Homo sapiens: one gene and its partners. The protein of the gene in region 1 interacts with the protein of each later gene in a pairwise test. Each region holds a gene or a part of one and is shown in the gene's direction. Other genes may lie near its edges.

Evidence for each region.
Region 2: the proteins of KLK9 (region 1) and CHEK2 interact in a two-hybrid assay, tested with the Homo sapiens proteins (one large-scale study listed by BioGRID and IntAct).
Region 3: the proteins of KLK9 (region 1) and PTPRJ interact in a two-hybrid assay, tested with the Homo sapiens proteins (one large-scale study listed by BioGRID and IntAct).

Annotation. Positions count from the first base shown.
Region 1 is NC_000019.10:51,006,614-51,011,030, reverse strand, and holds the start of KLK9 (kallikrein-9 precursor), read left to right. Parts: upstream 1-1,438; 5' UTR 1,439-1,483; coding exon 1,484-1,526; intron 1,527-1,691; coding exon 1,692-1,848; intron 1,849-4,307; coding exon 4,308-4,417.
Region 2 is NC_000022.11:28,693,321-28,696,820, reverse strand, and holds part of CHEK2 (serine/threonine-protein kinase Chk2), read left to right. Parts: intron 1-947; coding exon 948-1,111; intron 1,112-1,578; coding exon 1,579-1,694; intron 1,695-2,703; coding exon 2,704-2,789; intron 2,790-3,500. UniProt on the Homo sapiens protein: Serine/threonine-protein kinase which is required for checkpoint-mediated cell cycle arrest, activation of DNA repair and apoptosis in response to the presence of DNA double-strand breaks.
Region 3 is NC_000011.10:48,126,853-48,130,574, forward strand, and holds part of PTPRJ (receptor-type tyrosine-protein phosphatase eta isoform 1 precursor), read left to right. Parts: intron 1-927; coding exon 928-1,191; intron 1,192-3,606; coding exon 3,607-3,722. UniProt on the Homo sapiens protein: Tyrosine phosphatase which dephosphorylates or contributes to the dephosphorylation of CTNND1, FLT3, PDGFRB, MET, KDR, LYN, SRC, MAPK1, MAPK3, EGFR, TJP1, OCLN, PIK3R1 and PIK3R2. Plays a role in cell adhesion, migration, proliferation and differentiation.

The DNA of each region.
Region 1 (4,417 bases):
AACAAACAAAAAACAGATGGAGCAACTGAGAGAGGTCTTGTGACTTGCCCAAAGTCACACACCTCATCACTAATCACACCTAATCATTGAGATTTGGACACACATGGTTCAGTTCCAGAGTCCATGCTCCAAACCATGACGACACAGTGAGAGAACATTCAAGGGGAGCCCAGACCCAGCTTCATAACCAGGCCTGTGAGCAGGAGAAAGTGGAAGGGATCGTAAGTGCCCAGGGGAGGCAAAGATGGACTCTGCCTGAGGATCTCAGAGATTTCCTGGAGGAGGGAGAATTGAGGTTGGGTGTTGAAGGATGAGTGGGAGTTCACCAGGAAAAGAAGGATATGGAGAAAGACATTCACTCATTCAATGAACATCTCCTGAGGACTTCTGCAAGCCCTGTTCCGCCTGGAACGGGGTGATGCTGGGACACAGAGATGAGTCAGACCTGGGCCCAGCCCTCCAGAAGCTGTCCACCTGGTGAGAAGGAATGATGAGGAGAGAGGCAGGGAGGATGGGGTGATGGAAGGGACAATGGGGTGGGGGGCAGGGAGATGGATGAAAAAAATATATAGCAAATGTTCTCAGGATTTGGCAAAGATCAGGATGTATTAAGAGAGAGCACAGGGCACTTGCTACCTGGAAGGTTGGGCACCTGGGTCCTTGGGTGGTGGAGCCGTGGGGAAGGGGGCAGGTTATGACAAGAGTGGGTTAATCCAGATGGAACCAGATTTCTCAACATTCTAGGAGAGGGCCTTGTCCTTGTGGGAAGAGGCCCAAATCCCCAGGGCAGGGAAGGTTCTGCAAGGTGTGTAAACCTGTGCAGCTGCCTGTGGTCTCTGCCTCACTCCACCTGGATTTCCCTCAATCTTTCCCGTGTTCTGTCTCCTCCTCCCACTCCTCCTCTCATCTTGGGTCCTTCTGTGCCTGTACCTCCCTCTCTTTGTATCTTTTGCTCTTGTGTCTGAGTCCTGACTCTGTCTTCCACCCCTCGCCTCCTTTCTGGGTGGTCCCCCTGCACATCCCTCCAGCCTGCCGTGGGAGGTTGGTCTCTGCACACCACTGCTTTATCCAAAATAAACCTGCTGCACCCCAGGACCTTAGGCTTCAAGGATCTCCCTCCTTTTCCAGGACACAAAAGATTCTGTATCTTGTAGCCTAAGGTGATGAGGAATGAGGTCTCCCACTCTGAAGACCCCAGAGGAGGTGCCCACAACCTCTCCACACCCCCAGCACTCCTCCTCCATTCAGTCAAGCTCTGGCCCAGCAAGCCGCCAGTTCATCCCAAAAGGGGGGTCCCCCTGCACTTACCTCCTCTCCCAAGGCCCCTGTCACAGCCCCAGGGCTTCCCCCTCCCCCAGGTACATTTCCCAACCCCGATTAATCACAGGGGCGGCCCCATGGAGGAGGAAGGAGATGGCATGGCTTACCATAAAGAAGCACTGGACGCCGGGTGCACGTTCCAGGATCCAGGTGCCCAGGGGTCATGAAGCTGGGACTCCTCTGTGCTCTGCTCTCTCTGCTGGCAGGTGAGGCTCCCAGGCTGGCTGCCCCTTCACGGCTGTACTAAGGTCACCTTGCTCTTCCCTCCCATCCCAGGCTTCTGCCTCCTGCCCTCTAGGCTTCTCAGCATCCTCTCCCTGCCCTCCCAGCCTGCTCTTCGCTGACCCCTTTGTCCCTCATCCCCACCCCAGGGCATGGCTGGGCAGACACCCGTGCCATCGGGGCCGAGGAATGTCGCCCCAACTCCCAGCCTTGGCAGGCCGGCCTCTTCCACCTTACTCGGCTCTTCTGTGGGGCGACCCTCATCAGTGACCGCTGGCTGCTCACAGCTGCCCACTGCCGCAAGCCGTGAGTGACCCAGGCTGGCCATGCTGGGGAGGGACAGAGGCTGGGGGTCAGGAGAGGGTGAGGGGTGCTTTAGGCCAGAAGTGCGGAGCCTCCACTTCTGATACCACAAGTTCAACTCTTAGAAGTAGGAAGGGTAGCCTCCCAAATCCTAAAATTCTAGAGACCAGCAATATCTCATTTGAGAAGTCTAAGATTCGAAACTTAGGCTCTTCGAATCCGAGACTGACCCAGAGAAATCCAGAATCGTAGAATCCTAAAATCTTGAATTTATGAAATTCTGCAATAGCCTCAGCAAATTTTAGAATCATAGATTCGCAGACTATTAGAATCTTAGCAGTCTGGGTCAGCACTGCCCAGAGGAATTATGATGCCAGCCACATGTGTAAGTTTAAATTTCTGGTGGACACATTTAAAAAATAAGGAATGAGTAAAATTAATTCTAATAGATTTAACTTGACATACCCAAAAACTTATTTTGACATGTAATCAATTTTTAAATACGTATGAACGATACAGTTTACTTTTGTTTTGGTACTAAGCCTTTGAAATCTGTTCTGTATTTTACACACATAGCCTGTTACAAAATGGACTAGCCACATTTCAAGTGTTCAATAGCCATAATGGCTAGTGTGATCCTAGAATCTTAAATTCAGAGCTTTCTAGATTCATTGAATATTGAAACTCACAGTACTAGAATCTTTGATTCACAGTATCCTAGAATATTGAGATTCAGATAATTCTGTAGTCTTAAACTATTTGAATCCCAGACTCTTAAATTTCTAAGGTTATAGATTTATAGAATGATGACATTCTAGTCTTTCTTTTTTTTTTTTTTTTTTTTTTTTGAGACAGAGTCTCCCTCTATCTCCCAGGCTGGAGTGCAGTGGCACAATCTCAGCTCACTGCAACCTCTGCCTCTCGGGTTCAAGCAATTCTCCTGCCTCAGCCTCCTGAGTAGCTGGGATTACAGGTATGCACCACCATGCCAGGCTATTTTTTTTTTTTTTTTTTTTTTAGTAGAGACGGGGGTTTCACCATATTGGCCAGGCTGGTCTTGAACTCCTGACCTTGTGATCTGCCCGCCTCGGCCTCCCAAAGTGCTGGGATTACAGGCGTGAGCCACCGCGCCCAGCCAAAATTCTAGTCTTTTTGTCCTAGAACATTAAAATTCTATGTTCAAATCTTAGATTTAATTCAGATAATGTTAGAATCCTGGAGTTTTTTTGATCCAGGGGAATCTGGAATGTTAGAATCTTGGATTCATAAAACTCTAAACCTTGAGCCTCTAGATTCTAGAATCATGGATAATAGTGTGTCGGAATCTGAGAATTCTAGAATCTTAGGTTCTGGGCATTCTAATAGTATCCTGGAATCCACCTGATGCAGGAATCCTCTCTCCATTGCCTCTGAAAAGTGACCATCCATACTGTTCCAATTTTCTTCCCTCCATGAGTAAAGCACTGATTGTGGTAAGAGATGCTGTGTGGGAATTTCCCATCATGCATTGCTCCATGATGGAACCTCCTTTAACTTAAGCCTATACATCAGACTGGGAGAACGATGTTCAGATTTCAGCCGAAAGTGAAGCAGGAGAAATGCAGAGATATGAAGGTGGAAGAGAGTGAGAGGCAGGGGAAGGGTAGGGGGATGAAGGGATGTAGGGGTGAGGACTACTTTTCCAGATCCAGAGCCAAGACAGCAAGAATGACAGAGAGAGACAGACACAGATGTTTCTGGTTCCCCAACCCTGAATTCGCAGTCATTAGCCTGCTGCCTAATGTCAGAGGTCAGAGGCTGGGGAATGGACTTGTCATCCCCGAAAGGATCCCAGCTGTCTAGGGCATGGACCAGAAATGAAACAAGTGCGCTGAGACTGTGGTGAGGGCTTAAGGTTAGACACCAGGAAGACATGCATTGAAGGGTGAAGGATATGATAGACAGGAAAAGCTGAGGCCAGAGATGACCCCCAATTTGGGGATTTTCCATATCCCATCCCCTTTCATACACACGCACACGTATACACACACACCACTTAGACATACAGAGCCGCTCCCACAGAAGCCACCAGACCTGTGGGGGCAGGGGTGGGGCGGTTGTTATGTGGTAGGTGGGGTCCCCCGTGCCCACACCGTTCCTAGGGACCCAAGTCACCACCAAGGCTCCAGGTGAGTAGGGAGGAAGGTGGCTCACTCAGCCTGGGACTAGGAGCGGGGGCTTTGTGGGGAGAGCTACAAAGATGGAGACACACAAAACATCAGAGTGGGGACCAGGGACCCAGAGGAGGTGTGTGCCTCGCTTAAAATCACAGTACCCTGGGCCAGACATAGATGATGAGGGTGCAGAGAGGGTGTGTGGCTTGCAGAGGGTCACACAGCACCCTGATGGACAGGAAAAGAGGGCTGGGGCTGAAAGGACTTTTACCTTTCCCCCAGCTTGACCTCTGAGGCCTGTCCCAGCAGGTATCTGTGGGTCCGCCTTGGAGAGCACCACCTCTGGAAATGGGAGGGTCCGGAGCAGCTGTTCCGGGTTACGGACTTCTTCCCCCACCCTGGCTTCAACAAGGACCTCA
Region 2 (3,500 bases), on another chromosome or scaffold:
AGCGTAAAAAGGATGAGAATCTGACCCTTTCACTGTTACCAATTATTTTAGAGATCAGGTGATACTGCTCTTATCCAGATTCGAATGAGCATTTATTGAGCTCTGTTGTGTACAAGTGACCTTTGTGCTTAGAGAGAGAGGAGGGGTCTAAATGGACGAGTGGGCTGGGTATGGTGGCTCACACCTGTAATCCCAGCACTTTGGGAGGCCGAGGTGGGCAGATCACCTGAGGTCAGGAGTTTGAGACCAACCTGGCCAACATGGCAAAAAATACAAAAATTTAGCTGGGCATGGTGGTGGGTGTCTGTAATCCCAGCTACTTGGGAGGCTGAGACACGAGAATCACTTGAACCTGGGAGGCAGAAGTTGCAGTGAGCTGAGATCGCACCACTGCACTCCAGCCTGTGCAAAAGGGCCAGACATCATCTCAGAATAGGTGAATGAATGAATGAGTAATCACATGCGCTGCCTTTCCCTGTTTCTCAAGTCTGGCATCACTTTAGAATCTCTTGTTAGGATTTATGACACCCAGGCTTTACCTCAGAAGCTGAGAGTGGCACTCAGGTATAAGCATGTGTTTCCAAGCTCCCCAGGTATTCCATAGCGCAGCCAAGTTTGAGACACTGGGGTCTAAGAACCATGTAGAACTAATTAGAATCCTGAAGTGTCTGTGATAAAGATAATAAGCTTTTTGTAAGATTACAGAGGACATAGGTTAAGTTGGAAAGCCTGAGTGTTGAGATTCCTAGGCTCAGGAATTTTAATTTAAGCAAAATTAAATGTCCTAACTTGCAAAGACATGAATCTGTAAATTCCAGATTAATGGCAGGTGTGAATTGTACAATAGAAACTGATCTAGCCTACGTGTCTTCTTGGACTGGCAGACTATGTTAATCTTTTTATTTTATGGCAAGTTCAACATTATTCCCTTTTGTACTGAATTTTAGATTACTGATTTTGGGCACTCCAAGATTTTGGGAGAGACCTCTCTCATGAGAACCTTATGTGGAACCCCCACCTACTTGGCGCCTGAAGTTCTTGTTTCTGTTGGGACTGCTGGGTATAACCGTGCTGTGGACTGCTGGAGTTTAGGAGTTATTCTTTTTATCTGGTAAGAAATATTTTCATTGCTGCACAGACTGGTAGGAGGTGATTAGATGAAGTCACAAATGTGTCTTGCTCTGTTGTCCAGGCTGGCATGCAGTGGCTTGATCTTGGCTAACTGTAGCCTCTGCCTCCTGGGTCAAGTGATCCTCCCACCTCAGCCTCCCGAGTAGCTGGGACTACAGATGCACACCACCATGCCCAGCTAATTTTTCTATTTTTTGTAGTGATGGGGTTTTGCCATGTTGCCCAGGCTGGTCTCGAACTCCTGGGCTCAAGTGATCCTCCTGCCTCGGCCTCCCAAAGTGCTGGGATTACAAGCCTAAGGCATTGTGCCCAGCCTAGCTCACTTTTTGACCATTGATTTAAAGAAAAATCTGACTTTTCATTATGCTGAAAAAGAAATCTTTATATCTGAATGCCACTGAGAATGCCACTTGATTTCTTTTCCTTTCTCTCTCTACCAATATTAAGCCTTAGTGGGTATCCACCTTTCTCTGAGCATAGGACTCAAGTGTCACTGAAGGATCAGATCACCAGTGGAAAATACAACTTCATTCCTGAAGTCTGGGCAGAAGTCTCAGAGAAAGGTATGAATATGAAAGGGTTAAGAATTTGTGGTATGCTAAAATGTGTATGTGCTGTGGTGGGAGTTTCTTCCCAAATTCCATGGTGTTTTCTCCTGTCAATTCTGTTCTTATTTTCTATTGTTAGTTTCACACCATTTGAGAGGCACTGGAAATTATTAAGAGCATGCACTCAGGTCCTGGGTCTGCTACTACTTAGCTGTGTGGCCTTAGGCAAGTTATTTAACCTCCATCTCCAATTTCTTTCTGTGTAAAGGGACCCTCAATAAACCCTACCTTAAAAGGTTTTTGTGAGGGTTAAGTATCATGTACACAAGTGCCTGGTACCTATTTTAGTGAGCAAAATAAATGCACTTGTAACTTTTTAGTTACAAGGTTTCCTTTGAGTAAGCAAGCATGTAAAAACTAGATGTCATTAGTTACCTTGTATTTTATAATTTATCCTGGCAACTTTAGTTCCCTGAAGAGAAAGTAGAAAATTAAATGTCAAATAACATAACATAGGTGATTGTGTTAAATGTCAGAATATTTAAGGAATAATAATGTTGTAATATACAGGCCAGCGTGCATTTGTTGCTTGCTGGAGTAGCCAAGTTTTATTTCTGACAAGTCTGCAGTTCCAGGGAGCCTCTCCCTCGCTGAGTAACTGTCACCTATCCATCTGTAGATGTCAGAGAGAGTTTGCTGTGCATCCCAAGTATCTTAGAATTGGGTAGAAGTTTAGCTTTAATTAGTCCGACCTTGAGTCTAGCAACAAGAGAGGGAACAGGCAGTGAAGAGGTCGTGACTGACGTCCCAGCAGCAGGAGACAGGGAGTGTCATTATCATTCCTGGTCTTCTCACAGTACTCTGAATACAGAGAGTGAGGAAGATTAGGGGGCCCTGTCTGCTGACTCCGTGATGATCTCAGACCCTCTCTGCTCTTTCTGAATGGTGGCCTGTTAATTCTGGCATACTCTTACTGATAATATATTTATCCTTTTCACTGTGATTTGCCCAATTGTTGCTTTAGCTCTGGACCTTGTCAAGAAGTTGTTGGTAGTGGATCCAAAGGCACGTTTTACGACAGAAGAAGCCTTAAGACACCCGTGGCTTCAGGTGGGTGTGGGACAGTGCCTGCTAGCATAAAATACATGGGAAGCCCTGCTGCCTGAGAGACATGAGACAGAGGACAGAAACATGTTTACTTTGTTGAGTGTTTAATCTAATTGTTTTAGATGTATGGGGGGTATCTTGGAGGATGGGTTACAACCTGTTTTATTTTTTTTTTTGAGACAGGTTCTTGTTCTGTCACCCTGGCTGGAGTGCAGTGGCACGATCTCAGCTCACTGCAACCTCTGGCCCCCGGGTTCAAGTGATTCTCCTGCCTCAGCCTCCCAAGTAGCTGGGATTACAGGTGCATGCTGCCATGCCCAGCTACTTTTTGTATTTTTTGTAGAGATGGGGTTTCGCCGTGCTGGCCAGGCTACAACCTTTTTGATATTACTCATGGCTGTTGGATGTACACGCTCACTTTATGTCCTGTTCTGGTTCCACTTGGCTGCCCCGAGTCTCCTGTTTGGCCTGTGTTCTTTTGAGTGCTTGTTCTGGCTCTACCCCCAGCCATGTCCACTGCTCTTCATAGGTGGGGTGCATTCCAGCCATCTTCAACCTTAAATCAGGGAAGTGGGGGAGGGGGAGGAGGACAGCCTCCCTGGGGAGAATCCAGCTATTTCTCAAGCCCAAGTGACTGGGTATAAAGGGTCCCACTGCTTGTTCATTCAGGTGAGTAAATGTGTCCTTAATGAAGGCTGTCACCTGCACTTTTCA
Region 3 (3,722 bases), on another chromosome or scaffold:
CCCTGCACTTTTCAAGTGACTAGTTAGGTGGGGCAGGGTTAAGGAAACCATCAGAGGACATTGTTGAGGCACCCAAGACACGACAGAAAGCCACCTCTAGGGCTGAAGGGCTAGAGGAGGACAGGGTGTTTCTGGAGCCCAGTGAGAGCTGGGGCAGTGGTGGACACAGCTGTGTCAGGACAGGAGGCCCAGAGCAGGAGGTGATGGAGGAAGGCACTGACTCCTTTCTCCTGTGGCCCTTCAGGGGCCTGCCCATTGGCTCATAGTGGAACCCGGTCACAGCCCATGTGGCAAGACCCCCCATGATGCCTTGCACAAGGTCAGCCTCCTGGGCCCAGAGCAGGTGAGGGAAGGGCAGTGGATATGTCGGGAGGGTGGAGTGGGCAGGTGGTGAATAACTGGCACTCGGGTTATCTTTTCTTGAGGTTAGGATTGCTCTCCAGTTTTATAGGTGAGGAAGCTGAGCTCAAGTGGTTTTCCTGTGGCCCACCTGGGTGTCATAGCAGAGTGAGCCCTGGAACCCAGGCCTGCCTCGTCCTGACTTCTGTGATCTCGGGCGATCACATAGATCGCAGTGTTCGCTCTTGCATCATGTGTGTTTGACAACTTTTCTGGGTGCCCCTGGCCCTAGGGTAAGACATGCATAGAGTCCAAGTCATCATTTAGGTCAAATCTCTAAAGTCAACTTACAAAAAGGAACAAAGAATAACCCTGCAGGTGCCATTGGCCAGGTTGTTTCTTCACCGCCCAATGATGCCTGACTTTGGCTGGGACCGTCATGCTTTCCTAGCCACGGTTGATGGTGCAGAGGAGGAAGGAACACTCCCCCAGGAGAGTTTGCTGGGCTTGACAGCATGCCCTGATGACCTCTCCCTCCCTCTGCCTTGGCCGTTCTGGTTATTTTGAACTCCTCTTGTGTTCTCACAGATGCTATTCAGGTTTTTGACGTCACCGCTGTGAACATCAGTGCCACAAGCCTGACCCTGATCTGGAAAGTCAGCGATAACGAGTCGTCATCTAACTATACCTACAAGATACATGTGGCGGGGGAGACAGATTCTTCCAATCTCAACGTCAGTGAGCCTCGCGCTGTCATCCCCGGACTCCGCTCCAGCACCTTCTACAACATCACAGTGTGTCCTGTCCTAGGTGACATCGAGGGCACGCCGGGCTTCCTCCAAGTGCACACCCGTGAGTTCATGCCTGGCTCTCACCACCCTTTCCTGCTGTCCTGCTCCGTGCCAGGCCCAGACACAGGATGCATGATGTAGTAATGGTGACTGTTGGCTGACCACACGCCAAGCTTCGTGTGACATGCTTTCCTTGCACTGGCACATTGTATGCTCACAACAGCCCTGTGATGTGGTTGGAAGTAGCCTTATTTTATAGATAGGAAGCCAAGGCTGAGAGAGGTGCTAGACAGGTATCACAGCTGGAAAGTGGCAGAGGTGAGATTAAGCCTCTGGTATTTCTCACCTGGAGCCTGCGCTTGTAACTCTCTTTCCAGTGTGGAGGAGACCTAGAGTGAATTGATACAGGGAGACAAAAATGACCTGGTATTCATATCCCCTTGTGTCTTGGGTGCTGACATTATAACGAATCACTGGCACAGCTGTATCTCATCTTTGTTTGTTTAAATGTCCCTTAAAAATAAGATTTTATGCAGCAAATAAAAAGCTTTAGGTTTCAAAGAAGGTCCGATAATGTAAAATAAAACAGTAATGGTGCACTAGTAGTACAGTGGTATAATATTGATTATATACTATTAAACAATAGTAGTGACACCAGCACTGCATTTTGCACTGTGCCATGAGATTTATAGACACTGTAGTGGCCTCCGAGGTAGGTATTGGGGTCCCCTTTTACAGATGAGGAAATGACACCCTGATGGCTGAACAGTTTGCCCAAAGCCACAGAGCTAGTGAGTAGCAGAGCAGGACTTGAACTCAGGGGTGTGTGGCTCTGGACCCAGGCTTATCCCACAAGAATGTCCATTCCTTCGCAGGAAGCACACCTTAGCATTCTTATAGATGTATTTTGGACTGGATCTTTGGGAAAATGAAATATGCTTGCATTTCTTTACCTTTTACTCTTTTACTATTTATTAGTTAGGATTAGGTTCAGCCACGAATAACACCACCAAAAACAACAACAACAAAACCCAAGTATCCGTGGCTTAAACAAGACAGGGGTTTATTTCTCTCTCCTGTAACAGAAGCCCAGTGCTAGGCAGGATGGGGATGATAGAGGTTATCCAAGGCTCAGTTGTATGAAACAGAAACTGTGAGCTATTTTAACCAAAAGGGATTTATCCTGGGAATTGAGGTTTTGCAGAATCATTGGAAGAGCTGGTGTATTAGTTTGCTAGGGCTACCAGAACAAGTACCAAAGGCTGTGTGGCTTGAACAGAAATAGACTTTCTCATAGTTCTGGAGGCTGAAGGTCAAAGATTAAGGCAACGGCAGGTGTGGTTTCTTCTGAGGCCTCCCTCTTGGCTTATAGATGACTGTCTTCTCCCTCACATGGTTGTCCTTAGTCTGCGTGTGCCTATGCCCTCATCTCCCTTTATAAGGACACCAGTCTTGCTGGATTAGGGCCTACCTTCATGACCTCACATTAACTTAATTACCTCTTTGAAGACCCTGTCTCCAAAGACAGCCACATTCTGAGGTCTTGGGGGTTAGGACATAAACATACACATTTGGGGGTGAGGGAGCACAAGTCAGCTCATAACAGTTGAGGAGCAGGCTTTAGGCCTCGCCCCAAGAAATGACTCCTGGACTAAGTCTGCAGAACTGACCCCCTGGAGAGTCACCACCTTGGTCACAGACAGCAGAGGGAGGAATCAGGAAGTCTCTGCTGTAGTTGCGGGATCCAGGGGTCTATGTTCTGAGCTGTGATCCTGGGATCAGGAAGCTGCAGCCACCGCTGAGGTTTTGGTTCTAGAGCCAGGCAGCGTGAGCTCCAGTCATTGCATCCACACTACAGGTATAAGAAGGAGGAAGGGCAGAAGGTTGTGCCCCACCCTTAAAGGACACTTCCTAGAAGTCACCCAGTACCTCTGCTCATGCTTCGTTGAGCAAAACTTAGTCACATTGCAACATCTAGCTCCATGGGAGCTGGGAAATGTGGTCTTTGTTTCCAACAGGTATGCACACACAGGGCTAAAAATCTGGGTGGGTATGATGAAGGGAAAATGGGGGAATGGATTTTGGGGGTCAAGACTGGTCTCTCTCTGCTGTCCCTCCCTGAACAGAGGCTCTGGGAGGCTAGTAATGCATTCGAGATAAAGCAGCCAGTGTGGCCAAGGTTCTCCTCCAGAGCCTGAGCCCTTGACCACAGGAGCTCACGCCTCCTCTCATTTCCTGTGAATGATTGTGTGCAATGTAAGCACAGAGCTTCTGCACTCTCATGATCAAGTGCTCTCTCCATGGCCAGAAACAGCAGTTTCTGAGGGGCTCATGTTGTAGGTGATGATACAAAGAAGACAGAGAGAGGGATCAGGTGTCCTAAGTGTACATTTCATCTCAGTATTTTCTGAGGTGGGGCATCCCTGTCTCCTGGAGAAGTATATTTTTAATCTAGTTGTTTACTTTCTTTGCATAGCCCCTGTTCCAGTTTCTGACTTCCGAGTGACAGTGGTCAGCACGACGGAGATCGGCTTAGCATGGAGCAGCCATGATGCAGAATCATTTCAGATGCATATCACACAGGAGGGAGCT